4 linked regions of the Homo sapiens genome follow. The protein of the gene in region 3 interacts with the protein of the main gene of each other region in a pairwise test. Each region holds a gene or a part of one and is shown on either strand. Other genes may lie near its edges.

Region 1 (9,741 bases), on a different chromosome or scaffold from region 3:
GACCCCGTGTAGCTCGGGGCTTGGTGCCGCCCACGGCTTTGGCCCTGGGGTCTGGGGGCCCCGCTGGGGTGGAGGCCCAGGCAGAACCCTGCATGGACCCTGACTTGGGTCCCGTCGTGAGCAGAAAGGCCCGGGGAGGATGACGGCCCAGGCCCTGGTTCTCTGCCCAGCGAAGCAGGAGTAGCTGCCGGGCCCCACGAGCCTCCGTCCGTTCTGGTTCGGGTTTCTCCGAGTTTTGCTACCAGCCGAGGCTGTGCGGGCAACTGGGTCAGCCTCCCGTCAGGAGAGAAGCCGCGTCTGTGGGACGAAGACCGGGCACCCGCCAGAGAGGGGAAGGTACCAGGTTGCGTCCTTTCAGGCCCCGCGTTGTTACAGGACACTCGCTGGGGGCCCTGTGCCCTTGCCGGCGGCAGGTTGCAGCCACCGCGGCCCAATGTCACCTTCACTCACAGTCTGAGTTCTTGTCCGCCTGTCACGCCCTCACCACCCTCCCCTTCCAGCCACCACCCTTTCCGTTCCGCTCGGGCCTTCCCAGAAGCGTCCTGTGACTCTGGGAGAGGTGACACCTCACTAAGGGGCCGACCCCATGGAGTAACGCGCCCGGCCCCGATGCGAATCAGGCCTCCCCTACATCTGGGGGCGTTGGCCGCGAGATTCCCATTGACACCTTTGTTTCGTGTGCTTTTAAATTCAGGTTAAATGTTGCAATAATCTGATGCAGAAGACTCAGCTTCTCAAGGGAGAGGGAGGGGGCGGAGCGGAATAAATAGTAACTTATTTAAGAAATGCACTTGGATTCCTGCCATCAGTCAGGGGCGGGGAAGGGAGTACCATCCGCAGATGGGTGCAGCAGGCACTTGGCCAGCAGGACACAGGAGACTAGCAGAAGGAAGAGGCCGGGGAGGAAGAAGCCAGCCAGGAGGGGGAGCCTGGGGTACCCAGACTCTGAGCCCCCTGATGCTGTGATGTGGCGGCGGATCCAGTTCACGTAGGCAGGGACACGAGTGTAGACTCCCGGCCTGTTGGGGCGGCCGCAGCCCTCACCCCAGCTCACAGTGCCAGCCTGCACCCAGGCACCGTTCACCTGGCAGACCAGAGGCCCCCCGGAGTCGTCCTGAGGACAGAGAAGGCGAGCATTGGGAGCCGAGAAGATGGGGAGCCCCTCCCTGGGCTTCAGCCGCCCCCATCCTCTGTCACGGCCTGGCAGGCTCACCTGGCAGGCATCCCCGGGGCCCCGGGCACACAGCATGTCGGGCTGAAGGATGCTGCCCCCGGGGCCGGGATAGTCCCGGCGGCAGGTCTCTGTGTCCACCACGGAGACTTTCACCTCCCGCAGGCTGTACGGGGGTGGCAGAGGCTCTGGGGTGGGGGGAACAGGCTTCAGAGAAGGTTGGGGCACCAGGCCCTGCACTGGGGGGATGGGAGACCTTGCCAGACACAAGTCCCATGCCACCACGACCCTCGTCACGGCACGTGGGTTGTGATCTGACGTTTGGCTGCTGCTTTGGATCCACACGACAGGCTTTGAAAAGGGACAGCCGATAGGGGCGGCCTTGGCTGGGTGTGGAAGCCACCAGGAGCAGGTGGTAGCATCAGCATCCCTCAAGCCAGCTCTCTTCCTGCCGCCCTTGCCTTCCTCCATCCCAGCATCCCCACGGGGGCTCCTCACCTCCCTCCCGCGTATAGCCCCAGCCGGTCACCCAGCACCGGATCCCAGGGCAGAAGTCATCTGAGGCCTCCGGGAGGCAGACGGGCAGGATCCGGCTGGAGAGGGTCACGGGGACACTGAGCTCCACCAGGGCGATGTCCCCGCTGGTCCCCGGCTGTCCTGAGGGGCTGGAGTGCAGGATGATCTGCCTCACGGTGGAGAAGTGGGGAGACAGAGTGATCTCCAGTTCCCCCAGGTGCACCTGGTAGTCGGATGAGTTCAGGGACCTGGGAGGGAAGGTGGCTGGGTGAGAGGGGCCAGCTGCGGAGGCTGGAGGTCAGTGTCGGCCCCGCCCAGACCCTACCCTTGCAGGCATCCGAAGCCCAGCTCTTCCCTCCTAGGCTTGGGACGCAGAAAGCCTGGGCAGTGGCCTCACCCTGCAGGGCCCAAGGACCACGGCAGCACCTTGGGGTTCCTGCCAGCCCCTGGAAAAGCCAGCAGCATGCCCGACACCAGCAGGGGCTGGTCAGGAGGCAGATTGCAAGCTCAGCTCCACGTGAAGAGACCGAGGGGAGGGAAGGAGGGAGGGAGCTGTCCATCCCTAGAGGTGAGCAAAGAGCTGCAGAACCTCACAGAAGGTGGGCAACCAGCTCCTCCCTTTCCATTGGAAGGAAGTAGGCTCAGAGTTCCCAAGCCTCGGAGTGAGTCAAGACCAAGTGGAGGCCTCTGCGCTGGCGCATGCCCCACTGGGGCCTGGACATTGAGACTGCCCCTGCCCACCCGGACACTCACCCGGAGAAGCAGTGGGCAGCTGTGAGCACCCACTGGGGGCTGAGCAGTGACCCGCCGCACACGTGCACCCTCCGCAGGCGGAGGCTGGCCTGCCATGGCCATGCGCCGGCCGGGGCAGCGTGACCCCCCACGATCCGGCCGCCTGCATCCGAAACCTGCGGCCGGCCACACCCTAAGTCGAAGGAGGAAGGGGTGCCTGGTGGGGATCCCAAGAAACCCACTGCACTTCCTCCATGAAGCCTTCCCTGACCACACCTCCCTGCCTTCTTGGGGACTTTGCTCTTCAGCTCTCTCGTCTGCCAGACTCTCCCCAGAAGCATCGTGGGTGCAGCAGAAATGACGTCTCAGGAGCAGTGAGCGCGCCTGGGGCTCAGGTCGTCCTTTCTAAGCACCATGCTCCACAAACTAACCAGGGCTCCCGGAGGCGGTGGAAAGGCTGCAGAGGGCCCCTAGGCGGCTAGAAAGGGGCTCAGAACGGTGGAGCCCCCGAGAAGGCCCGGGGTGCTGGGGGTGGCTGCCTAGTGGGCCCCGGTTTTCCTTCAGGGGTGGTGGAGATATTCGAAGCTGGATAAAATTCGGGGGGCGGGGGGCAGACAGCACTGTCCAAGGTGCTCGGGGCCTCTGAATTGGACGCTTGATAATGTAACTTTATCTTCTGTAAACTTCACCTCAGTAAGTTAAGAAGAAATTAAGAGGAAGTCAGCTGGAGACCCACTGGCCACACCTGGGTCTGCCTGAGCTGGATAATTGTGCTGGTGATGGAGTGTGGCCACTGGGCTGAATGGAAGGGAAGCTGGGATGTAGACAGACAGAGATGTTTATAGATAGGCAGCGGGTGTGGGGTGGGGCACCGGCTCTCCCACACGGCAAAGCCCCCAGCTGGTTCCAGGGCCACGGTGGGGACGCTGTGGGGAGAAAGTTCGAGGAGGGCCAGGTTGTTTCATGGCCTCAGAGCATCTCCCAAGGTACAGACTGACTACAGTGGTGGTGGGGGAGACAGCCCTGCAGCACACCCCGACCAGCCCCACTCAACCGAGAGATGCGAGCAGAAACCACGGCGACAAACTATGACCTCCCCGGGCCCCCATTGGGACCCCAGGGAAGGAGAGGGTCACCGAGGCCCTCCTGCCAGGCCTTGCCTGCACCCTCCCCCACACCCCACACCTGTCAGAGACGTACCTGGCTGCAAAGTCCTGAGGGACACACCTGTGGGAAAGACGAAGGGCCCAGGATGGAGGGGGCTGCCAAGGAGAGGGGTGTGCGGGCTCCAGAGGCCCCTGCCAGGCCTCAGGGCGGCACTGGGGTGGGGCCTGGTCCTGAGCAGAGGGGCCCGGCCTGGTGAGGCTGGGTCAACTGCTGTCTCACTGGCCCAGGGCTGGGTGGGACAAGCCACAGGCCATAAACGGCAGCTGGAGGCCGGGAGCTTGGCCTCAGGCCTGGGCCTCCTCCCCGCCCTCCAGGTCCTGCTCAGGAAAGAAATCACCAGTGTTCTAGGGCCTGGGACTCCTGGCACCCCCAACTCCCACCCGCACCCCCAACTACCACCCGCCCTGCCAACTCCTGCACCCCCAACTCCCACCCGCACATCCCTCCTGCCTCTCCCCAGCACGGACAGCTGGGCCTCCAGCCAGGGGTGCAGTCTCTTCAGAGGAGACACGGGGCCCCACAGGGTGGGGACTCAGCATGTTTCTCCGTCTCAGACCAGCCCCCAGTTTCACCCCCATCAGGGGTCCAGGCAGGAAGCAGATGCCCCCCCATCCCCACACCCAGGCCAGGTCACCCACCGGGCACAGCCAGGAGCAGCAGGAGGCCACAGGCCCCAAGGGCCATGGTGTCTGCCCACTGTAGGGAGAAGGAGGGCCAGCCTGACCCTTGGACCTGCTGGGCGTGGGGGATAGGGGTGGCCACACACCTGCTGTCAGGCAGGGCGGGAGGACGGAGGAGGAGGCCGGAGCTCCACAGACGGCCCCACCTGTTCCTTCTGCACCTCAGAGAAGGGTCGTCACCTCCATTTATCCCTGTGTGGACGCCACAGCCCTGGCACCAAGTGGCCGGCTCCGTCAAGGGAAAGCGGGGAAGGACAGAAGGCAAAAGTACTTCTCACCTTGTCTCTGCTCCGGGGCCAGGGCTGAGGGAGGGGTGAGTGTTCCTCTGAGTGCCGCCCCCTCCAAAAATTACTCCCTGGTTCCCTCGGGGCACGCCACCCCCTCTCCTTCATCCTCTGGGAGCCCAGTCCTGGGGGTTCTTCAGGAGGGTCCCAACTCAAGGCCCAGCAGCCCTTTGGAGACAGCTCAGGCCCTCGTGACAACCACTCTTTGAGAAGTCCCTGTCCCCACGTCCGGCAGCAGGTCCTGTGCTCGTGCGGCAGATCAGATGGGCACCACTTCACGGCCCAGCCTGGGTTGGCCCTTCCTAACCGTCCTGGCTGCCCCAGCCTGATGACTCAGCTGATTAGGGGCCCTGGGCAGCGCCCGGGACTTTCCTGCCGCCCTCCCCAGATCCAAATCACAGGCCAGGCTGGAGGGTCCAGCTGAGACCTTCTAGGTCAGGGATCCCCTCTTTGATGTGGGGAAACTCAGCCACGGGTTGGGGGGAGTTGCCTGACCACCCACCAGGATGTGGCCTCCCAGGCACAGACGTGGCCGCCTGCACGCCAGCACGTGGGGTAGCCAAGGCTCAGAACTGGAGGTTCAGTGTTTTTCCTGGTGACCAATAAGGACAACACCAGCATGCGGGGCCAGCAGTGCACCCACGGCCGGGCACCCTCCTCCCTCACGGCAGCCGCACACCTGGAGGGGGCGCCTCAGGGGAGGCAGGACAGTCCCACCCCACACAAGGGAGCGGGGTCTGAGCCACGAGTCCCCGGCCCAGGGTGCCCCTAACAGGGCGATGTCACCCAGTGGGGAGGGAGCCTGAGGGGCAGGGTCTTCATGGAACCAGGTCCTCTAGTCCTGACCTCTAGGGCTGTCCCCAGGTCCCCACAGGTGGGGACTTCAGGGCCCTCACCTGTCCCAACTCAATTCACCTGCAGCACTGGGGACCCCGTCTTTCTGCCTGTGCCCCAGCACGCCACTCCCCGCAGAGTGCTCCACACGACCCAGATTGCAGGCCTGCTGGGGAGGAAGAAGCTTCAGGCACCATCCCCTGAGCCCCAGCAGTCCTGTGACATGGTGCCGTTCACCCCCACCATTGGACAGGAGAGCCAACTGAGGAACCGGGAGGGGGGCCTGGCCCTGGTGATTGCCCCCAGCTTGGTGGGGTCTCCTGTTGTCCAGGACCCTGGGAGACCTGGGATTGCTTCTGTCTGCGGTGGCCTGGCCACCTGGGTGCCGTCCCCTCGGTGGGAACCCTGTCCCCCCCACTCGCCCTCCGCCTCACACCCCCCTGTGACGGGGAACCAGGGCCTCCTGCCGGCAGCCACGTGGGTGACCTTGGAGCAGGTGCCCCCGTCCCAGTCAAAACGCAGGTGGCTGCAGCCCTGGCCAGCAGCCTGCCTGCCACGTCCTGAGAGACCCTTCCTGCTGAAGCTGACGCTCACATCTGCCAGTGTCACTGGGCTGAGCTTCACTGAGCTTCCCAGGGATCTTAGATCTAATTTGGGAAGCTCTGGGGCTGGAGCCCGCCCTCCCCCTCCACCCAGTGACCGGCCCCTGCTGTCCACCTTTCCTTACACCGGCAGCCCTGTCCTGAGGGGCCGTCTTGCTTCCCTTCGGGGTCTCATCCCTCCGACTCCCACCCCGCAAAACCTCCAGTGGGCGTGTGGAAGTGCTTCTAGGGGCTCAGTGTTCCCTGGGGGTCACCCCGTGCTGTCTCTGTGATCCCTAGAAGGTGGGATGGGCCAGAGGGAGGAAGAAGGGCCCGAGTTCCAGGTCCATCTTCATTAACAAGACGCTGGGCCTGCAGAACAGGAGCCGAGGGATGGGCCTTCAGGGGCTGCAGAGGCAGAGGTCACGTGGGGCTGGAGAGGGCACTGGGAGTTGAGTCCACCCCTTGTGAGGACAGAGGTCATTTGCAGAGATTCGGGAGACTAAATGCACATCTCTGCATCTAACAGTTGGAAGGAAAGAGTGAATGTTTCTTTAGAGAGTTGTTTTCAACCAGAACAGCCCCGCATTTCATTCCTGAGTGTAATCATGTTCAAATATAAAATGCAAACAAGAGCCCGGGATAAAATGCAACACTCGCCAGACGCAGAGGGCTCACCTATTGATGTAGAGAAAGACCTCAAAATGAATTTGAAAATGTCAAACTCAGGCCGGGTGCGGTGGCTCACGCCTGTCATCCCAGCACTTTGGGAGGCCGAGGCGGGCGGATCACTTGAGGTCAGGAGTTCGAGACCAGACTGGCCAACATGGCGAAACCCCATCTCTACTGAAAATACAAAAATTAACTGGGCGTGGTGGCTCACTCCTGTGGCCCAGCTATATGGGAGGCCAAGATGGGAGGATCGCTTGAGCCCAGGAGTTAAGGCTGCAGTGAGCCCTGATCACACCACTGCACTTCAGCCTGGATGACACAGCGAGATCCCGTCTCAAAGCAAACAACTAGGCAAAGCACAAGCAGTGGACGGAGGGGCCGGGAGAAGAGCTCGTGGGAAGCGTGGGGTAGGGGCTCGTGATGGGCAGCCCTGGGGCTCCCGGTGACCATTCTCTGTCTTGACCCGGTTGCAGGGACCTGGCTGTCCTTTATAATCAACTGAGTTGCCCGAGTGGCTCTGTGTGACCCGAATGCTGGATGCATCGTGTGGGGAGAAGCCAGCCTCGGGGACCAGGGCTGCCCAGGAGGCCCCGTCCCACGGTGACTGGCTGTGCCTTGAGGGCTAGGACCTCACACTGTGGCAGGTGTCCTCAGCACACCTGGACCCCTTCTCTCCCAGTGACATCCACAACCAGAAACACAGCGATGCACACCAGTGATTTCCATGCACTTTAATGAGGTCCAGCACTCAGGAGGATTAGCGCCCACCACCAGCTGCCTGGGCAGGGGAGGGCCGGAGGGCCCGGTGCAGGCGTCAGGCTTAGGACAGGGAAGGGGGCTCAGGATGGGGAAGGGTCCTCAGGACAGGGGAAGGGGCTCAGAAGAGAGCAGGGGGCTTAGGACAGGAAGGGGCACTCAGGACGGGGCAGGGAAGGTGTGGGGGGCAGTCGCCACCTGGGTAGGAAGCAGTGGTGTTTTGAACAGGAGGGGCTGGCTCTCCAGTGACCCAGGTGGACACCCCAGGCCTGACTCACGGCTTTTTGGGGACATAGTGGTGGATCCAGTCCAAGTAGTAGGTGACACGGGTGTAGATGCCAGGCCGGTTGGGCTGGGCACAGCCCTCGCCCCAGCTGACCACGCCCGCCTGCAGCCAGGTGCCATTCACCTTGCACACCAGGGGCCCTCCGGAGTCGCCCTGGGAAGGTCAGAGGTCAGCGCTCGCCGAACAGGCCTGGGAGTGGGGGTTGGGGGGCGGGGGGCGGGGGACAGGCGGGGCCCACCTGGCATGAGTCCCTCCGGGTGTTCCCGGCACACAGCATGTCGTCACGGACGATGCGGACGTCGTCTCCCGTGTAGGCGCCAAGGTGGTATTTTGCGTCACAAATGTGGTTTTCCATTATGGGGACCTTCACCTGCTTCAGAGGAAATGGCGGTGGGAGGCGCTCTGCAGGTGGGGAAGAGGGTGCAGCCTCAGGAGGGGGCCGGGCAACCCCCACCTGGAGCCCAGAGGGAGCCCAGGGGCTGGGCTGTGGCTAAGACCCTGGCCCCACCTCCACTGTCCCCAGACCCACCATCATTGTCCACATCGCCCCAGCCAGTGACCCAGCACGGCATCCCCGGGGGGAAGGTCTCTGAGGCAGGGGGCAGGGTGACCGTGTGGACGTGGCTGGAGACGTTCACCGGCTCCTCCAGCTCCAGCAGGGCGATGTCCGCTCCGATCTGGGCGGTGTAGAACTGTGGGTGCACGATGATCCTGCTGACCGGCAGCAGCTGGTCCTGGTAGTAGAGGTGCTGCTCCCGCAGTTGCACCCTGAGGGCGGCCAGATCCTTGACGTCCCTGGGCAGCGGAGGATCCCACTCAGGGCCCTGGGCAGCCCCCAGGAGCACCCGGGAGCCAGGGCTCACATCCAGCCCTTCCCCACCCTTCCAGGCCCCGGGAGACTCACGGTCCCACGCAGTGCGCTGCGGTCAGCACCCACTGGGGGTGGATGAGGGAGCCCCCGCAGAAGTGCATCCAGTATCGGTCGCGGACTCTCAGGCTCACCTGCCAGGGCCACTTGCTCCTGGGGGCCTCCTGACCCCCAACGATGCCCACTCGCTGCAGGGCCTGGCCTGGGGCTGGGGCAGGTGCCAGGTCAGGACCAGGAAGCAGCCCCAGGCCTGGGCCCAGCCCTTCCCTGTGTGGGGGCCAGCCCGACCTCCCCAGAACCCACCCAGGCCCTGACCTGTGGAATGTGGTGAGGGGCAGGGTGGACCCCGGCTGGGACTCACCAGGGGCCGCGTAGGCGCGGCTCGCCAGGACGGGCAGCGCCAGCAGCAGCAGATTCAGCATCTGGGGAGCAAGGAGGAGCATCGTGGGCCTGGCCGGGCCTCACAGGGCAGGGCTGGGGGCTACAGATTGTGGGGTGAAGAATGGAGCTGGGACGGGGGGACCGGGGTGGGTCCAGGCCTGCAGGCCTGGGTCTTGGTGCTCTGAGTCTGAGGCTGGGCCACTCTGCTCCAGGTGACGCTGATGTCAGGGTCTCTGAGAGTGGGGACTTACCCTGGCCGCTCCCTGTTCCTTCTACCCAGTGGGCTCTCCCCTCCCCATTTATGCTTCCAGATCAGGAGGGGGCGGAGGAGGGGCGCTGGGTCCTCCCATCCAGACTCGGAGGAAGTGGATGACTCAGACCCAGGGCCCCCGTGTAACACGTGCCCCCGCCACCCCGATGCCCTCTGTGTGTGGGGCTGCCAGGCAGGCCCCGCTGAGGGCTGAGCACTGGAGACTGGCAGCTCCACCTGTCAGCTGGTGGATCCCAGCACTAGAACCCACCACCTTCCCGCTGGTGGGATCTGCTCCTGCCCCTGTCTCGGTGCCAGGAGGCCTTCAGGCATTGCTGCACCCAGGTGGCCTGGCTGTCCCAGGCTACAAGACCCATCGCTCCTGAAACCTGTTTCCCCAAGAGGGACACGGGGTGAGGAACTCATGTCCATGGGCCACCCTCCAAGAGACGGGAAGGTGCCCACGGGGTGGGGACATGACGGGTGACACCCCTCTTACGGACTCCGAATCCACGGGGGTGGCGCCAGCCCTCCTCGACTCACTTGGTGGGAGGCTCACATGA
Region 2 (6,884 bases), on a different chromosome or scaffold from region 3:
ATCACAGGGAATGTGATGATGATTACCAGAGAATGGATGTGAAATCACTTTACAAAGAGCAGCACAAGGAGTGGATCAGTATCATTCCTGTGAGCTAGGAGACAGTATACAGTGGACACATGGCGGGCCTGGCCTCCTTGGCTGCACCTGTTCATGGATATTCCATTTTTTTTCTTTATGGGTGTCATTGGAAAAGAGAGGCAATAAAAGTGGAAGATTCACAGGCCTCATCAAATCCCCTGGAGCCCTACATTAAATAGATTAGTCATCTGTGCTCTCCAGAGTTACACATCCCCAAATTTCCATTTCTTTGTGCTTGGTAAACACAATCTTACCCCACATCTTTACTTGGGTTTGACTTATAATAAAAATATACCACCACCAAATTCATATGTTCCAGTTCTAACCCACAGAATCTCACAATGTGAAATTGTTCAGAAATAGGGTCATTGCAGATATAGGTAGTTAAGATGAGGCCATTAGGGTGGCCCTGATCCAATGCCTGGTGACCCTCTAAGAAGATGGTATTAAGACACGGATGCATGGAGGAAAGGCCATGTGCAGACAAGGGAGAAGGCGCCATCTATAAGCCAAGGAGAGAGGCCTCAGAATGCGATCGACCCTGCCAGCACCTTGATCTTGGACTCCCATCTCCAGAACTGTGAGGAAATACATTTCTGTTATTTAAGCCACTCAGTCCGTGGTACTTTGTTATGGCAACCCGAGCAAACCACTATAGTGACCTGAAATGGTTTTGAATATGCTCAGTAAAAGCAAGCCAAAAGCCTAGTTGATTTCATCTGCCAAACCAACGGGCTAGATAAACACTTTTTATAAGACAGGAAGAATGTTGTCGAATCATATCTGGCATTGCGTGGAGGTGTGAGGAAATGGTGTCACGACTCTTCACATCACAGCCTTGTGCCGCAGTCACTCACATGTGCAGCCAGTGGGGGACATCTATTTCCCTGCATGCTCAGATGTGGGCACAAGCCCTTGAGCCCGATACTGAGAGCCTTTTTTCGGAAACACCCTAGTTTGTCAGTTTCTCCCTTGTCTCTTTCTATGGTTTCCTTTTCTAACAAAGAGCTAAACCTACGAGGTCATGACATAAATGCTAGTATTCTATACAATTTCATGATGAATTATTTTCTTTCCTTCTCTTTCTTTCTTTCCTTTCTTTCTCTCTCTCTCTCTTTCTTTCTTTCTGACAGAGTCTTGCACTGTCACCTAGGCTGTAGTACAGTGGTGCAATCTCAGCTCACTGCAACCTCCACCTCCCAGGTTCAAGCAATTCTCCTGCCTCAGCCTCCTGAGTAGCTGGGATGACAGGTGTGTGCCACCATGCCCGGCTAATTTTTTTGTATTTTTGGTAGAGACGGGATTTCACTATGTTGGCCAGGCTGGTCTCAAACTCCTGACCTCATGATCTGCCTACCTTGGCCTCTCAAAGTGCTGGGATTACAGGCGTGAGCCACCATGCCCGGCCTTCTTCATTTCTTTCTAATGAATATTATACAAGGAACGTTTTTGTTTTCATTCTAGTTTTCCTTAATGAATCTTAGTGGGAAATTCATGTTTCTGGGAAATTTTGACAACATAAAGACTTACATATCTCTGGTTGGGGTATGCCCAGCACCATCTGGCCATTCAAGACTGTACTAAAGTATGGGCCTCATTACTCTCGATCTTGTCAGACCACTTGGCTATTCGGGAATTATTTCATCAAGCTGAAGATATTCCCTAAAAGATCCCAGTGAAGCCTGTTCCCTACAATTGACAATGTTTTATATTTTAAAAATACATAAATTAATAACGTTCCAGAAACATTACTTGCTCTTTTTTCAGCATTAGCATAACTAGAAGAAAATGATTTTATAAATTTCCAACATAAAATGAATGTCTCTGCGATCATCTGTAAGATTTCATCTCCACCGGAAGTAAGATCATGACAACCAAAAGTCGCTTTGACGAAACAAATCTAGGACATGTGTGTCATTGTGACTCAACATTTCCCTTACCATTTGGCGGAACCTAGTGTTTTTCTACTATAGGTTCAGCCATCTCTCTATCAAGCCATGACCTCCGTCTTATTTAGACATGATTCCTTATTTGCCAAAGAATAACAAATTGTATTTTTCTTACAAGCCTATCATTTTCATTGTCTTAGTCATTACAGGTTTTAAGTTGTTTCAGTCTGACTAAACAACACTAAATGGTAGATAAACCTAGGAAGATATTTCCGAATATGATGCTTCTCTGAGCAAGAGCACAAATACCAAATTATTTGGCCTTCTCTTTAAAATCTGAGAGGTTTTACATGAACTATGTCTAACCATAATTGAGTTTTCAGTAAGAACCAAGTTTATCTTTAAAAAAAAAAAAAAGAAAAGAAAATACACACAGTCAGATTCACCCCAATTGGAATATAACGTCTCCCAGTGTTAAAATAACAATGACACCGTCACAGCGCACTAAAACTTGGGGCTGATGTAGACACTTAGGGGTAGGCAGACACCCCCCAACAGTCAAAGGTGCCATCTCCTCCATGCAACAGGCACAGGAGTCATTTTCTAGATTCCTTTTTTGAGCTTTTAAAATTTATAAACCTCACATTTTCATCCCAAAATAGCACATTTCAATCATTGTAAGAGTTTACAAGACTGCACACGCCACAGAGTTTAATTTTTCTTGGTACCAAACTTAACAGAACTCATATTAAAGGGTTCAGCGACCCCAAATCCTTCTTCTTTGCCTCCTTTCTCACAATATTATACATTCTATGCCTTAAAATGAATATAATGACTTGCATGGACCACAGGGCTTACAGAGAAGATGGCTGGGGAACAAGACTCCTGAGTCTTACCTTGAACTGAGGATTCCAGAACCAGGATGAGGGCAAGAGCCAGGACAAGCCGACTGCATTTGAGTAGCTTCTGCATCATGACCAACTTAGTCTAGCTCTCCCAGCTGCACGCCAACTTCTTGATTAGGAAATGTAGCAGGGTGCTCTCTGTCCCTTTTAGAAAATGTTCCAAAACCTCAAACCCTGCCCAGAACACACGTCACAATTTCCTGAACAAATAGAAAGACATCCACATCAAAACCCAGAAAGAAAGGGGGTGGGGGGAACACAGTAAAATAACTATTCATACCCATTATGAAACTGTACTGGACTCCCCCCAGGCCTGCTTTTTCAAAAGTTTTGTTGTTTGCCACTTGCCTGCAAGACATTTTTTTTTCCCACCGAAACAGTAGAATCAGCATTTGGGACAGTTTGTTTTTCCTTTCTTCAGGTAACAATCTAAACACTAGATTGCTAATATTAAGAATCTGCTGCATTTTTTATGAGATAAGGGATCTAGGTGCTGCCTTTTCGTCACCAAGCACTTTCAACATAAAACATTCTCTTCATTTTCTTTTTCACCGGGGAGTAACATACCTCACTGAGCCAAGCTCGTGAAGTGAAACTTCAAAGCTGAGCTCTAACCTTCAAGAATGAGTTGTCGGATTTCAGATGAACAGTTTCTTCTTCTTCTTTTTCTTCTTTTTTTTTTTTTTTTTTTTTTTTTTGAGATGGAGTCTCACTCTGTCACCCAGGCTGGAGAGCAGTGGCGCGATCTCAGCTCACTGCAACCTCCATCTCCAGGGTTCAAGCAATTCTCCTGCCTCAGCCTCCTGAGTAGCTGGGATTACAGGCGTACACCACTGCGCTGGACTAATTTTGTATTTTTAGTAGAGACGACGTGTCACCATGTTGGCCAGGCTGGCCTCAAACTCCCAACCTCAGGCCATCCGCCTGCCTCAGCCTCCCAAAGTGCTGGGATTACAGGCGTGAGCCACCGTGCCCAGCAAACAGTTTCTTCTTAAACTCAGTTTCTTGCATTGGATCATTGGCTCTCTCTCTATCTCAAGAACATAGGATTTTCAGTTACAAAGACTGTGGTAAAACAGAAAAACTATTTTGCATTCCCCTCTCCTTCACATTGAGCATTTCTTAAGATGGATTCCATTTCTATTTTTATCTGTTCTCCTAGTCAAAATTTTCAACTCGAGTTTTGGGTCCTCTGGCCTTGAATAAGCCAGAAATCAGGAACGAGGGAGAGGTTGTCCTCACAGTGAGCTGCTGGACCTCAGCAAACAACACAAACCTCTGCCTCATGTAAATAAAGGAACAGCATTTTCCCTGGGCATGGTGCAGATTTCTGGAGGACTAAGGCTCCATATTAAAGTTATACAATAAAGGCCAGGTGCTGTGGTCCACACCTGTAATCCCAGCACTTTGGGAGGCTGAGGTGGGTGGATCACAAGGTCAGGAGATCGAGACCATCCTGGCTAACACCGTGAAACCCCGTCTCCACTAAAAATACAAAAAATTAGCCGGGCGTGGTGGCGAGTGCCTGTAGTCCCAGCTACTCGGGAGGCTGGGGTAGGAGAATCGCTTGAACCCGGGAGGCAGAGGTTGCAGTGAGCCAAGATCGTGCCATTGCACTCCAGCCTGGGTGACAGAGAGAGACTCTATTTCAAAAAACTAAAAATAATAAAATAAAATAAAATAAAGTTATACAATAAATACAAGCCTATCATACATCCTTGCCCTTGTGGCATATACATTTTCCTTACTTCCTTTCAAGATTCAACCACTCTCCATTTCAACATGTCTATCCCTACCGCTCCCCCAGACGGCTTAATGCACGTGCCCCACTTTCCATTCTCATCCTCGCCCTTGCCTGGCCTTTGATAGGAGGGAGGAGTTTCCCTTCCCTTGTTTTAGGCTTCCTGCTGATTCCTTTACCATTTCCTGCTAAGGACAGAGTCTCACAGTCTAATAGCCGTGGTGCAAGAACACAAAGAGTGTACATTTTGGCCCTCCTCAGAAGCCCCTCACATCAGCCAGAAGTGTGTCCTCCAACTCAGGGGCGTCTCCAAGCACAGTAACCAACCCCAAAATGCACTGGCCCGGAAAGTTTTCCACTGAGAAATGTCGGTTTCTGTTTGAAATATCAGATGTCATCTTTGGTCCTTTTAAATCTAACTCCCAATTGAAAACCCTGGCACCAAAACAATAGTTCCTATCAATAGCTTCGATGAGTTTCCTGCAAATCCCCAGAGCTGATTAGGGCTGTGTTTTAAAATGGTAATTTTAGGGGCTTTTTCCATTTGGGAACTTCATTTTTTTTCTTTCTTTCTCTGGGTCATGGTGTTGTTGTTGTTTTTTACCTCTCTCTCTCTGTCGCCCAGGGTGTACCTCCACCTCCTGGGTTCAAGCAAACGCATTTGACTAATTTTTTTTCTTTCTTTCTTTTCTTTTCTTTTCTTTTCTTTTTTTTAGTACAGATGGGGTTTTTGTCATGTTGGCCAAGCTGCCCTCGAACTCCTGACCTCAAGTGATCCACCTGTCTCGGCCTCCCAAAGTGCTGGGATTACAGACGTAAGCCACAACGCCCAGCTCATGGTGACTTTTAAAGCACAGGTGCAGTATTCATAAGCATTTGCTCTTCTCCCACTACGCTGATAATCAAGTCTCTTTTTCTAAGAAGTCCTCCAGTCTCATTTAGCCCTCTTCAAGCTGTAGGGGAGCAGGACACATGCTGCAGCAGCTGGAAGTCCTGGGTCCAAGCCCATGCCCTTCACTTACCAGCTGAGCCACGCTGGGCCACTCACTTTTTATGCGTCCTTTGTTCCAGATGTAATGATGGTGTGGGAAGCCAATGACAGGATGTCCTCAAGAGCACATGGCACACGTGGTGAGGGAGGCATTGGCAACAGTCCTCAGGGCTGGGCATGATCTTACCAAAAGATTCCGCCATTAACCCAATAGGACCCACATCTTTCCCTAAAAGTCAATCTACGATATGCATGTTTTCCACAATTTTAAAAGACAAACCCTATACCAGACTTAATCCTTCTTTCACCAGGCAACCTGAGATGCACCTACTTTACTTCACATTCAGTTTATTTGCCCATAAAATGAGTATTCTTATTCCTTAACAGTCACCTGGAACATGACAGAAATCAGTTCCTGTTGTTTAATAAAGTGACGGGTCGCCGGCAGGGCAGGGTGGCTCACACCAGCACTTTGGGAGGCCAAGGTGGGCGGATCACTCACCTAAGGTCAGGAGTTTGAGACTAGCCTGGATAACATGGTGAAACCCTGTCTCTACTAAAAATACAAAAAAATTATCTGGACATGATGGCGGGCACCTCTAATACCAGCTACTCAGGAGGCTGAGGCAGGAGAATTGCTTGAACCTGGGAGGCAGAGGTTGCAGTGAGCAGAGATCATGCCATTGCACTCCAGCTTGGGTGACAGAGCAAGACTCCATCTCAAAAAAAGAAAAAAAAAATGATAAATTGAGGTTATGAGAAGAGATACAGAGGGCACCATGAAACTGCACAAAGGGGAAGCTCCAAGGCCTATTTCTTTCCTAAAGCTCCAGGTTAAAGATTCCGCCACCAGCAGCCTCTAGGACTTTTGCTTGGCTCTTCATTGAGAGGGTCTTGACTCTGAACTGGGCACTGCACCAAAAAAACAAAACAAACAAACAAACAAACAAAAACCAGTAAATAGATACTGCACCAAATCTGTATGTCTCTAGAGGCTTGAAGGACGGCCCTTGCATGAATTTTTGATTTCTAGAACTAGAAGGGATCTTAGAAATCATCTAGTTCCCTCACTCAGGTGAGAAAAATGCAAGTCCAGAAAGGTTAAATGATTTGCCTCTGCTCACACGGTTAGCAAGGGGCAAACCAGGGTTAGAACTCACGCTTCCTAATCCATGCCCTGGGATAGATGAGGAATGAAGGGGAAGCAAGATTAAGATTTGTAAATAATCAGAAGTCCTTTTTGTTATTTTCTTGTAGAGGTACATGCTAAGCATTTC
Region 3 (6,324 bases):
AATCATGCTGCTATAAGGACACATGCACACGTATGTTTATTGTGGCATTATTCACAATAGCAAAGACTTGGAACCAACCCAAATGTCCAACAATGATAGACTGGATTAAGAAAATGTGGCACATATACACCATTGAATACTATGCAGCCATAAAAAATGATGAGTTCATGTCCTTTGTAGGGACATGGATGAAACTGGAAACCATCATTCTCAGCAAACTATCGCAAGAACAAAAAACCAAACACTGCATATTCTCACTCATAGGTGGGAATTGAACAATGAGACCACATGGACACAGGAAGGGGAATATCACACTCTGGGGACTGTGGTGGGGTGGGGGGAGGGGGAAGGGATAGCATTGGGAGATATACCTAATGCTAGATGACGAGTTAGTGGGTGCAGCGCACCAGCATGGCACATGTATACATATGTAACTAACCTGCACAATGTACACATGTACCCTAAAACTTAAAGTATAATAATAAATAAATAAAAAAAAAAGAGAGAACCACCAAAGCAAAAAAAAAAAAAAAAAAAAAGGGAAGGAGGTCCATTCTTTCAAAGGCAGTTCTTATGCTCTCCTTTCTACCTTGACTGAGAGAACACTTGGACTCTTCCTCAGCTGGTGGGTACCGAACTAGGATGTGTGGGGACTCAGTTGGGTTGGGGCAGCAGAACAATGTCCTGAAAATAGGAGCCTCAGGTTTGGAAATTTGCTGAAAATTCCCAGGTTGCTGGTAGGCAGGCTCCTGATGAGATTGGAGACGCCCAGCCACCTTCTCAGGATCAGACTTGTGTTATTCATGCTCAGGACTCATGGTGTCAGGGCCATCACTGGTCCATAGTGGCCAACTGTGTGCAGTAGGAAGACTCCCTCGAGGGCAACTCTGCCCCCACACATGGTCTAGTTGGCCCGTGAAGTTCTCCCACAGCTAACACTCAAGTTAGCAAGATGGCAGCTCCTTTTCTCTACAGTAACGGCCTCCTGTGCTGGAGGCAAGGCCAATGACAGCAACAGCCAACACCATGATTGGAACTGGCTTTCAGAGTGTAGGCTCTGCCTCATGTCATCTTTTTCACTGAACCTTCTCAGGCTGAGAGGGGTGAAGAGGTTATTTATTTCCTGAAGCTTACCCAGATCCCATTGAAGGGGAGGTTGCCTCAGTTTCTCCCTTTATTGTACCTAACATTTGGACTCTAGTTTGAGGAAGGAGAGGATATGGGAAGGAAGTGTAGACCATGGAGGGAGGGATGTAAGGAAGCCCATATGAAGACCAAGGATGCCTTTGGACAGAACTTTGGGGTCAGCAGCCTCTCTCATCCCCCCTCACAAACCTTGGTTCCTTGTGTCACTCTAGGCAGGAAAAATACCCAGGAGGAGGCTAGTATCAGAAGCTAGAGCCTCAGTAAGGCACAGATTCAGCTGGGGCAGCAGTTTAGGCATGAAAATCTCATGAAAATCATGTTAAACCAAAAACATGCTTTAATGCCAGGCAAGAGCTACACAGTCAACTGATTTACGGGCCACTCCATAGGCTATGATTTATAAATTATATATTATTAAATCCACCGTGGGCATACAGATGGGATGGGACAGCACCCCCAGCTCCCTCCCACTCTGAATGATGTATGAACAGTTGAGCACTCTGTAGAATCCTTCAGGTCGTAAGCCACTTTATTCCAGTCCCTTGAACATCACAGGCTGGTTTTATTTGGGACAGAACAGGTTTTATTTCCAAAGGTCCCTGAACACAGCAATGACAATGAACAGCCCAGCAGAGGAGTGACATAAACCTTGAGGCATGCAGTCTTCTGGGTGCTGTGGAGTCCCTTGGCCAAACTTGAGTGCACTGGATTCGACATACAAAGACCTTCCTGGGAAGGAGAAGGAGAAAAACAACCTCCGAGAAAATACAGACAGGGTCAGTGGCAGGCCAGGACAGGGACTATTTCTATACATTCTGGAAGTGTCGGCATTCATCAGCCTGCATGTGGCTCACTTTTCTTTCTGGAATAGCCGGAGACCTCTACTCCTCACTCCAGCTCTAGGTTCCAAGGAACAGAGTGGGTCTGGCTCAGCGAGATGTCATGACTAAGGGCAGAGCCCAGGCAGGTTTCTCAAAACATTAACTGATTCCACCTACCAAAGGAGAATCAAAGGAAGGAACTAGGACTTCGATTCAGAGCAGGGAAAAGTGGGATGCAGCTCCTGAGCACTGCCAATAGGGCATGCTAGGTCTCCTCACCCAGTCTGCCTTCTGTGTCTTAGGTTAATTCGCTATTTTCCAAACACAGATTTTAACACTTGGCCATGGAGGAATTTGGCAAGTTTTGGTACAGAACCACTGTGAGGAACTGACCCCTGGAGGAAGACTAGGATTATTTTTACAGAGTCTAGGTCTCAAAATTTCACCCTATGGATTTGGTTCTTTTTGGTCTACCATACAAATTTGGATTTCTGCTGCCAATTACAGCAGACTCAAGTCATATATAAAAACCTGGAGGTTAGCATGTCTAGTCACATTTTTCTCCTGGTCATGATGTCTCTCTTTCTGTGGTTCCTCTTCTTTGGCAAGTGGCTTGGCAGCAAATATACCCACTAGGGACCTCTCTGCCTTCTCTTAGTGGCAAGTTCCCCATCAACAACCTTGAGAATTTGGGCCTCCCTTTGCTAACTACTTGCAAGAGTATGACTCGCCTGTAACCAGCAAATTTTTACTCTTAGCTTTCAATTCAAATTAGTGTGTCTGAGGTCACCAGACCAAACAGCAACTCAGACTTGTGCTGTCACTTCTGGAAATAGAAGTCTGCATTCAAAGAGCACGGCAATGGAAAATACTTTTGGATTCTCCATAGGGGGGCCTTGGAAACCACAGACACACTTGCCCATGTCTTTATGATGAATTTGATGACTGCCCAACCTCTGATTCTTTAACAGGGGCAGGGAAACTGAATATTCCAGACCTGGCTCCCTAACCATGCACATAGATTAAACCACTGGGAAGTTCCAAGAATGTATGTGATGTTTTTTCGAGTCTGCAGAGTATTGATCTGCTCAGAAAAGCACCATGCCGCCAGTCTAATGCTGTCAATGGGCTGCTGGGCCTGAGAGGGAAACCACCCTACTGGTCCCCTGTCATACATGTTAACATTCCTGTGCTCCAATTGTCCTGTCCCACTACCACCTGCTCTGCATCTGCCCTCTAGGCATGGCCACTCTGGAAATGCATTCAAAATTAAAGTTGGGCCCTAGTCAGGGTTACTTTGTATTTTTATGGAATATATAAAATATACTTGTCGATTGGTACATTTGTGCAAAGACAGATATGACTTCCAAACAAGACAGACATTCATTATAGTTGTCTTACTTCACAATAAGCTACTAAAAACAGTCTTCTGGAATAAGATTGTATTAGTGCTCACTAAACATGCATTTCATTTAAACAAGGCAAAACACTTAATTTGGTCTGCATTACCCAATATGTTATATACAGCCGTCTTTTTATTTTATCACAATAGGCAACAAGATGGGTCTGGTTTTGGAATATGTTACCATTTGTGTTTAATTTCCAAAGACACGCATATTAGCTCAACTAGTGTAAACCTGTGAAAAAATAGCTGAGCCATCTTTTTCCTCTCCTCTGTTAATTTATCTTGAAATGTTCACAGCTTAGAAACTACAGCCTGCTGGGGAAGAGAGGGGAGTGGGCCCCCATGGGGAAATGTCCCAGCTCGCTGGAATAGCCTCACCCCAGAGGGTAACTTGTTCTTGGGGAATCCAGCATCCGGTGCCATCCATCACCCCTACGGCACGTGTGACAACAGATTCAGGTGGGGAGTTTTGTCTTTCAAACAAAAGCCCCTTGAAGCTTGCAATAGAATCACAGGACTGGATGGGTTTCCCTTCTTTTGCCCCAACCCCCGAGTCTTACGTTTTAGAACAGAGACATTAGAATAAAAAAAAATAATAGTAACGATTAAAAATCATCAAACAATGAACACCACGAAGTCTGTCCATGCTCTCCACAAGCACACTGGGGCTCTGGGCATTCCCACGAAGCATCCACGACAAAAGAAGCTGAAGGCGTCACGGAGGAAGGCGCATCAGACCGCACAGGGGACGGCATCACCATTGATATTGTTTGGCAAAAAAAAAAAAAAATTGTTAAAAAGAAGAATCAAAAGGGAACACAAGCAGCTCTACAATTCGATTGGTGGGCGCAGGGCTCAGAACTGGCCGGCACTGCTCGGGTCGCACTGCAGGAGGCGCACAATGGACGGGTCGCTTTTGGCTCCTCGGATGAACTCTTCCAGGGAGAGTTTTCCTAGGAAGCAAGAGGACAGGTGAGTGGTGGCTGGTGGCAGCTGCATGAGCTTACACCCTTCCCACTACTGCGTGCTGGGCAGTGTCGATTCACCTGCCTGCAGCCTCACTGCCACTGTGACACACAGCACTCACCTGTCCCGGGGAAGAGCCCAGTGGAATCTCCAGGAACACTGCTGCCTCATTCACCATGGCATTGCCAGCACTTAGGACAGTACATGTGGCAATCAAACGCCGCTGCCTGAGAGCCCACTGTGTGCCCGGCCCTGGGCCCGGGACTGGGGAGAGGGTGGTGGATGATGCTGACTTGGTCCCTGACCTCCTGGCTCCAGGCGCCCTGGAGAGGCTCACTCAGCATTTGTAAAGCAAGTGGCCCTCCTGCATTTATGAGAATGAGCTGGGCCCTGGCAGCACCCGGTTGGTTCCCATAATGTTCCCTGGAGCCTTCTGAGCCACTTCGTGTTCTTCAGGCCACTCTGTGTTCTTAGGTTTGCTGCAAGAGCCCATCCTATCTTGGGGAAGAAGCCGTGGACGTAAGTGTTTGTTCATACACCACGGGAAGACAGCTGTGCCTCCATCTGAGGTCAGGGAAGAGCAGGGTATGTTCAAGGCAGAGGGTAACCCATGGGTTTCTGCCTCTCAGTTAGGGTGCTCTCCTGCTACCCTGATGTGCTGGAGGAGGGAGGCTCAGCAGCCTGGGCTCCCACTCCGACCCCGGTGACCTTTCCTTTCTGCTTACTCTGGAGCACGTACAGAATTCTCTTCCAGGAAGGCCTGTCACTTGTGGAGAGGAGGGGAGGGGGTGGGGTAGGAGTTGGGGGACTGCAAGGCTTTTCCCATTCCTGGTGCTTCCAGAAGGACCCTTCCTCTTTGTCTACCCCGCCCCTGGGAGTGAAGTGACATGCTCGATTGGTAAATTTGGGAGGAATTGCTGGGCATCTCCGCCCAGCTTTGCCCTCCCTTTTTCTCTTGAAAGGAGCTGCCCCAGAGAGGATTTATTTCCATCTGCTCCTCCAAGGGCAGCACCCGGCCTGCCTGGCTCTGCACGCCTGTGGGTTTTTCAGCACGTCCTTGGACTCTCACGCTAAGCCATAGCCTCCAGTATCTATCTTTTGACCTCTGTCCTCTTTTATTTCTCAACTTACTCCAAACCTGACAGGAGGGGGCCTCCCCCAACAGAAACACCAACAAACATATCTTCTCCTCAGCCACAACTCCCTCCCCGCCAGAACCTAGTTCTTGTTTAATGAAACCCACTTTATCTCCATGAAGGAAAAAGATAGGGATGCATTTATTAATTTATTTTTAATTTGTAGAGCTGATCCCCTCCAAGCTCTGTGTGCTGGCCATTTTTTATGAGCCCAGCCCTGCCCACATAGTAGTTACAATGGTAATGACTTCCTCCAGCTTGGCAAGGCATGAGGGAAGGGAGACAGGCGTGATCTCTGAACACTTTGCAGTCTCTCAGGGGTCGGCTCTGGGAGGCACCAGCTGGAGGTAGCAGGGGCAGACCTGGAGCTCGGCATGACGTCTGGCTTTCTTCACTTAACTGTCTGCATGATTCAGAGTTGGCTCCTAGGAGAACTTGCCTGAGGGCCCAGATTTTTCTTTTCAAATCGGAGGCCAGAAGTTAGATTCCAAGAGCAACAGGCAAGCTAAATCTAAGGGTAGGAGACTCTAGGTGAGGACTGCTCTGCTCTCGGCAGGGAGGGGTGCAGGTGTCCTCAATCCTGGGGTCCAGCAGCCAAGCACTGAGCTGAAGCACCCAGTCTCCTGGTTGAGCTAAGATTCCTCTGACAGCTGTGAACTTACAGCCCCTCTTCCTCCTTCCTTCTACAGCTCCCACCCCCCTCTCCCAACCCTAACCTTTGAAAATTTAATTTAATTTTAAACATGAGGTTTTCCTTTGGAAAGGCACAGGTCTTTAGCAGTAAGTTGTGCTCTGAGAATGCTAACTCAGTCAGGGCTCTGCAATCCCATAGCAGCAGAGTCCCAGTGGA
Region 4 (7,160 bases), on a different chromosome or scaffold from region 3:
CCACCCTCTTCAGCACACAGTGAGTGGGGTGCCAGGGCATTAAGCCATCCTGTCAGGTCTTGTGGACATAGAGAAAAATCTTGCTGGAAAATGAAAACAAATAAATACACTAGTACAGGTTTCTATGAGATAGGGAAATTGTCATCATCTGAAATTCTTTCTCCCTGTTTGTACCGACTTACTAGATTCTATTCCAGGCACCTGTAGTATACATTGCATAGTTGATGCTTAATTGTTCTTTTTCTCCCTCCCTCCCTCTTCCCCGCTTTTCTCCCTTTCTTTGCTCCTTCCTTGTTTCCTTTCTCCATCCTCTCTCCCTCCCTCCTTCATTCTTCCCTCTCTTCTTTTCTCCTTTCCTCTATCCTTCCTTTGTTTTTTTTTTCCTTCCTTGCATTTTCCCCTATGTAATGCATGCTTTTTTCCTTGTCTTTTAAACCATAAATACATATGGGAAAAAAATCTGTAGTCTCATATCTGAAATATTTTTAAATCAAGATTTTCATATATCACAATATAGGAAATAATATTTTGCTAAGGAACTTATGTTCTTGTTACATAGATATTACTGTAATAAATATTATGAATTTTCTTCATGATATGACCCAAGTCCACCTACTTCATTTATTGCTAAATCAAGTAAAATTTAAAAAGAAAATTGTCACCTAGATTTTCAAAACAGCCTCTTGCTGATTTTTAAATTATGTACTTCGTTTACTTTATTTTCTAGCTTAAATTTTTTAAAAAAGTGTCTGATGACTAGTGTGTGGACAAAACATTGAGAATTAGTCATAGTTTTAACTCTGATTTTTTTAAATGATAGATTGGTATGCTTATAATTGATAACTTGGTATGCTTATAATTTGAAGAAAAACAAAAACTATCACAATGGGAGAGCTTGATAGCCTCTAAAATTTTTGTCAGATAAATGCTTTTCTGATATTCCTTCATAGAAATTCCTTTTAACAGAAGTATTTGATAATTTTTAAACTTCTTTGAGCAAATAAAAAAGGATTATGGTTTGATTGGATAAGTGTGAGCTTAAGGAAAGGAGCTTGTCTTCTTTTTCTTGTTATTTTATAGTTTGGGAAGACATCAAAGAGGAAGAGAAAAACAGGAAAAGGAGAGAAAGAGTGTGGTTGTACATTCAGATTCAGAATAGGAAAGACATGGTCATAGGAAGGAACATTTGCCAGGGTCTCGTGCTTTTTCTACAAATAAAGGTAATTCTATCATTTATTTGATACATACAAATGGATGTGACTGACATATTTTGTCACTTTTTAGGATCTCATCTTAAGCATCGTCATCCACATCATTACAAGCCTTCTCCAGAAAGATACTAAACTGTTCAAAAAGATTTTGTGAAATTGCACAGATGTGTAAGCTTGTTGAACTTCGGCCACGAGACATGCACACTTCCAGAGGCAGTGGGAACTGCTCAGAGGCCCGGACTCTCCTATGTGACTTTAGTGCAGGAAGAACTTCTGTCAATCATGGACGCATCTGGAGACAAGTGAGAAACAGTAGATTGGTGAAGACAGACACCAGTTCCCTACAAGCATGGAGAAAATGAAGAATAGGCCTGTTTAATGCTAAATTTTGTTTTCATGTATGGTGTCGCTCATTTCTATTGAATTACAACAGAACTCAGTTTTCCCTGAATTTGGAGCACCAAACTCCGCCCCAAAAAGGAGAGTAACAAATACACAATTCACACATAACACTAAGCGTAAATCTAATCAATAAAATATATTTTTGACTAAATTATTGATTCGATATGAAAAATCAACTAAGATTACACAGCTTTGTTTTTTTGAATCTTTCCTAAGATCATTTTTATCCTAGGTGATTTTTAAATGAAAATGTGTAATCTAAAATATACCAGCGAATTTAAATCTAAAAATGCTCCTACTTTAAGTACCTTGTGCTGCTCTTTATGCAAAGGTAAATCAAAGTTCCCTCTATAAATTATGATTTACAAAAGACACCCAAGCCAGAGGAACTCAATGAAATAAGCTGCTAATCAGATTTTACCTTGGAGAAATGAAAATTATTTCTTGGGGATGCCTTTTAATATTTGATCCTATTATGTGAGAGATTTTCCTGATATGTTATCTTATTTATATTTTCCCTTATTTTCCTCAATGCAGATAATAGCTTTTGGTGCACTTTTGTTTCACCATCTGAAAATTCACAAAACTTCTTGCTTCAAATGAAAAAATCCCAACTATTGAGCATGTTTAAATCTTTGCAGAGATTTGCCTTTTCTTAATCAAAGAAAGGTCTTTGTGTGCTAGAATATTATTGGTAATGTTTTAAAAATTCCTTTGATTGATAGAGAAGGACAGTTATTTGCATTTAATTCACCCATATGCTTTCAAATCTAGTATATCTTACTTTTTGGAAATGTTTTATGCTACAAATTAGTGCCTTGTAGCATGAACTTAAGTCAAAACGTGTTATCAATATAGAGTGTTGCAGTGTATATTGTAACAACCTAAAACGCAGAGAAGTTTAATTTAATACTGTTTTTTTTCTTGAAGGAATACTCACATACATGGTTTGAAATGTGCATAGATATGCATGTCTATATAATTATAAATGCATGTGTATATATATGCAAATATATGTACATATACATGTATATACACACAGACACATGCATATACATGAATATACCTTGAGCATGAATCCCTGGAGAAATCGTTTTCGTAGCTCACCAATGGTGAGTAAAGATACAGCTCTTTTAAAGGTCATAAGGATAATATATTTTCCCCATCAATGCTGATTCTGAGAAAAGAGCAATTTATCAAAATTAAACACTGTAAAAGAAAGGTGTCCATATGTCTTTACCTACCTAAGTAAAACAGGAAGAAAATCAGTAACATTATCCTTAGGTTTTGACAATGGTACTTGCTTCTTGTTGTTTTATTGTTTCCTGAATTCATGCAGATGCCTGGCCATTCCTGGGAAGAGTGGATAACTCAGAAGTCACTGTACTCCACAGAGCCTCACTGCAGTGTCTAAAGGTAGATGCAAATTAAAATGCAGGGAAAATAACTTTTCTGATGTTGATGCATGTCTTTGGGAAACACATTTATAAACATGGATACCTGATAATAGATATTGAAACCCATTTCCTGTGTGTTAAAATATTTAAAAAGTGGATATTCCAGGAATGTTTTGCAGCTTTGTACAAGTAACATAAATTGGACACCTCAGAATGAAAGTTCATGTTGGTTCTGAATGGTTCACTGCAGCTCCTGTCACAAGCTGGGATGGATTTATCACATTGAGTTATGAAATTACCTGGTTCTAAGAATTTTTGAGTGGCAAAAATAGAAAACAATCTTCATTTGAAAACATCCCTAAGCTTGAATAAATGGATACCATAGATAGCTTCTCTTTTTTATTCTGGTGTCATTACCAGCATCTGAATTTCAAGTTCTTAAAATTTCAAAAATTAAAATTTTTCATTATTAGCTATCCATTTATCTTTTACATGAACTTGTCATGAACAAATTCAAATGTTTATGCCAGCAAATTTTTGTACTGTTGCATAGTTAAAAATGCTGGGAGTCTCTGCATAGATACAAAATATTATTAAATTATTACATAAATTTAATTTTATAAAATTTAATCATGCTTCTTTTGTCTGGGTAATAGACATTGGACAGATATTTTTAGTTCAGATGGTGATTCTGAAGCTTACATCTCCCTTAAAAAAATCTAAAGCAGCTCTTATGGGCTTCTAATTTTAATATAAATAAATAATTTAAATTTTATTGGTGTTATTGGAAGAAAAATGCTATTAATGGGCTAATAAAAAACATGTGTTTCTCTTATGGATTTTAATAAGCTCCAGTATTATTCAAATGATCAAAAATATAGTTATAATTTTTTGAATTTTAAAAATGTGATTGCTCTAATAAAGAATAAAATCTATGCTTTTTAACAAACATAGTTTTGGTGCCTAATTCTGTAATATGTTTTATTGAAATTAGATTCATTTCTCTAATGTGAGAAAAATATATCCAGTAATAGTATTGACTGTTTAAAAAATTGAGCTCATCAAAAATATTGTCATCAAATACAGGTGGTTAATCTGACATACATTGCAGTTACATGCATTATTTTTATTTACAACATTTGCTCCTTAATGATGAATTTATCTGTGTTACCCTGTTTTTCTACCTGGAACTCCATAGAATGATGTTTGCAAACCAACATGTGCTCTTTTCAGTCATTCACTGTTTTAATATGACATGGTAGAGAAGATAAGGTTTATGGCAGGTAATTTTTTGTAATGTGTATTAAACGAAGTTCAAAGATTAGAAATACATCTGTGTCCTGAAAACCTTAGATACATAGCCGACTGTATACAGAGGTTCATCTCAACCTCAACACTATTGACTTTTGGGGCTGGATAGTTCTCTGTTGTGGGGGTTTGTCTTGTGCACTGTAGGTTTTTAGTAGCATCCACACTTTCTCCTCACCAGATGCCAGTTGCACCCTCCCCCAAGTTGAGACAACCAAAAATGTCTCCAGATATTGCCAGCTACCCCTTGAGGGATGGTACCTCTGGTTGAGAACCATTGCTAGAGAATGATCTTTACTGAATTTGCCCTTTATAAGAAACCCAGTGAATTTCTAGAGCAAGTCCCAAAAACTAAGGGACAGCTAAGAAGTTATTATGGTTGACTTCAAAGGCCTAAACTGTGTTTTTTATGTCCACTAAACAACTTGATTAAAAGACGGAATTTTGACTCGTGTCTGTATCATACAAGTACAAATACTAATTTTGCCCTATGTATCCGTAAATGTCATTTGTGATTTTGACTTATTTATTTAATGCCCTTTCTTATGCCGTGGGTTTTCAAGTTTACTCATTTCTATGGTTGCAAATAACTCTAAAACTTATTATATAAACTTTCATATTATAGGCAGAACACAATGGCTAAATATCTGTTGCATGTACTTTAAAGTTTATTATAAAATATAAACAGATATATAAAGATGTTGACTCTTACCTGTGATTTTGCATGGTCAGACTCGGTGTCAGGTACGGAGAGGATTCTCATGACTGTCTTACCTCTACTGAATATTCTAGTGAGTTATATGATTTACGGAGTGATTAACAGAGGTCTATATAAAGTTACTTTTCCCCTTTACTTAATTATATTGTAGTGTGCAGATAACAAAACTGCTACCTTCTCATCCAAGTGGTCTGTAGAATTCATGTCCCTTACAGTGGTCATTTAAAGTCAATATTTATTTATGTATGTAATAAAAAAAGTTGGATTTTTGTGTATGTCTGTCACATTATTTAGAGAGAAGTAATCTTGTAAAAATGTTTTGTAAAAAACAAAAAAGTATTGTAAATAGTCTTGATATTCTGTGACTCATTATTTTCATGTTAGAGTTTGTACATACTGGTTCAATAATAAAGTATCCTTAAACCAGACCAAGGAGTCGACTCATTTATTTCTTAAAGAAACATTTTTGCTGGGCACAGTGGCATGCACCTGTAGTCTCAGCTACTCGGGAGGCTGAATCTGAAGGATCACTTGAGTCCTGAATGTTTGAGACCAGCCTGGGCAACATAGCAAGGCCCTGTCTCCAAACTTAAAAAAAAGAAAAGAAACTTTATTGAATTTAAGAGGAAAAATGGACAGTTCCTGCTGCCAAGGAGATTCAAAAAGTCTCTTTCCATGTCAGTGTTAATGGAATTTGAGGTCTGGTAAATGTTAACAAGACAGCACTTCATCCTAATGAAAGTATCTTGGAGTTTGACAACCAACACTTCAGATTTCTATCATCATGTTTACAATTGTAACTCCTGATGGTTTTAGTGGTATATTAAGTCAAGGATATACAATTTTAAGCTGTTTTTCTTTTGCCACCAATATTTACTCCTAAAATTGTAGATATATGCAATGCCAATAAGCATTCACCTGTATTTCAATACTACTCAATTGTTTTTCAATACTACGTACTATACTATAAGCCTTTAAATCTCCATTATCTAAGTAGAGTTTTGAGAGGCTTGTACATCCCCACTTTGACATGCAATTGACCCATAATTGCTGATGAATTGGAAAAAATGCCTAAGAAAAAAAAGCATAAGAAATAAAGGCTTTTAGGGCATTCACCAAAATAATATATATTGTACCCATTAAGTAATTTCTCTTTACTCCCACTCTCCCACCCTCTGACCCTCCCACCTTTCCAAGTGTTTATTGTCAATTATTCTACATTCTATGTACATGTGTACACATTATTTAGTTCCCAATTATAAATGAGAATATGTGGCATTTGTCTTTTTGTGTCAGCGTCATTTCAATTAAGATAATGGCCTCCATTCCATCCATGTTGCTGCAAAAGACATGATTGCATTCTTGTTTATGGCTGAATAATACTCCATTATGTACATAGGGACCACTTATATGCTGTTGGTCATAATGTAAATTAACATGACCTCTATGTAAAACAGTATGGAGATTTCTCAAAGCACTAAAAATAGAACTACCATTTGACCTAGCAGTCCCACTACTGGGTATCTACCCAGAGAAAAAGTAATCATTATATGAAAAAGATACATGTTTATCACAGCACTATTCACAATAGTAGAGGTATGGAAACAGCCTATCAAGGCTATCAGTGGAGGATTGCTTGACGCTTTTATGCCATCTTGAAGTTACAGAAAGAATGGGGGCTCGGATCTTGGCAACACAATTTATGGGAGGGAGAGAAGAGAAGTCCTGACTAGCAAAGGTGGTCTTGTTACGCAGATGAAACCTCCCAGGTCGCAGCCTTTAGAGAGAATAGATGGTGACTGTTTCTTTCAGACCTTAAAGGTGTTAGGCTTTTAGTTAATTTTTCCTAGATCCAGACACGGGGGCAGGGAGTGGGTGTCAGAGAAAGCCTGGCTGCAGCAATGCATCAATGCAGATTTTCTCTACATCTACAGATGCCAATTTCCCCCACAAAAGACAGCTTTGTAGGGCTGTTATTTTCAGGCCCTCTGAACAGCCATCTCTAAATATGTCAAAGAAGGGTTATTTGGGGGTGAAATATTTTGATTTCTTTCAATGGCTGCTGCCGCCACCCTACAGCATGAGCACCCATGCCAGTGGCCCCAGGCTTGACCCTCCCCAGTC

The links.
Region 1: the proteins of NCALD (region 3) and TPSG1 interact in binary tests that used the Homo sapiens proteins (3 or more experiments, as listed by UniProt).
Region 2: the proteins of NCALD (region 3) and SRGN interact in binary tests that used the Homo sapiens proteins (3 or more experiments, as listed by UniProt).
Region 4: the proteins of NCALD (region 3) and ANOS1 interact in binary tests that used the Homo sapiens proteins (3 or more experiments, as listed by UniProt).

Annotation. Positions count from the first base shown.
Region 1 is NC_000016.10:1,220,983-1,230,723, forward strand, and holds TPSG1 (tryptase gamma preproprotein), read right to left. Parts: upstream 4,271-9,741; coding exon 4,225-4,270; intron 3,647-4,224; coding exon 3,620-3,646; intron 2,613-3,619; coding exon 2,441-2,612; intron 1,936-2,440; coding exon 1,670-1,935; intron 1,360-1,669; coding exon 1,214-1,359; intron 1,115-1,213; coding exon 806-1,114; 3' UTR 669-805; downstream 1-668. Other genes in the region: CACNA1H (voltage-dependent T-type calcium channel subunit alpha-1H), read left to right, coding at 1-12; uncharacterized protein LOC124903621, read left to right, coding at 4,269-4,579, 5,472-6,258; TPSB2 (tryptase beta-2 preproprotein), read right to left, coding at 7,668-7,832, 7,918-8,081, 8,209-8,474, 8,584-8,755, 8,909-8,969.
Region 2 is NC_000010.11:69,084,219-69,091,102, reverse strand, and holds the start of SRGN (serglycin isoform 1 precursor), read right to left. Parts: upstream 3,001-6,884; 5' UTR 2,946-3,000; coding exon 2,867-2,945; intron 1-2,866. UniProt on the Homo sapiens protein: Plays a role in formation of mast cell secretory granules and mediates storage of various compounds in secretory vesicles. Required for storage of some proteases in both connective tissue and mucosal mast cells and for storage of granzyme B in T-lymphocytes.
Region 3 is NC_000008.11:101,685,082-101,691,405, forward strand, and holds the end of NCALD (neurocalcin-delta), read right to left. Parts: intron 4,326-6,324; coding exon 4,228-4,325; 3' UTR 1,461-4,227; downstream 1-1,460. UniProt on the Homo sapiens protein: May be involved in the calcium-dependent regulation of rhodopsin phosphorylation. Binds three calcium ions.
Region 4 is NC_000023.11:8,527,178-8,534,337, reverse strand, and holds the end of ANOS1 (anosmin-1 isoform 1 precursor), read left to right. Parts: coding exon 1-19; intron 20-1,284; coding exon 1,285-1,343; 3' UTR 1,344-5,464; downstream 5,465-7,160. UniProt on the Homo sapiens protein: Has a dual branch-promoting and guidance activity, which may play an important role in the patterning of mitral and tufted cell collaterals to the olfactory cortex. Chemoattractant for fetal olfactory epithelial cells.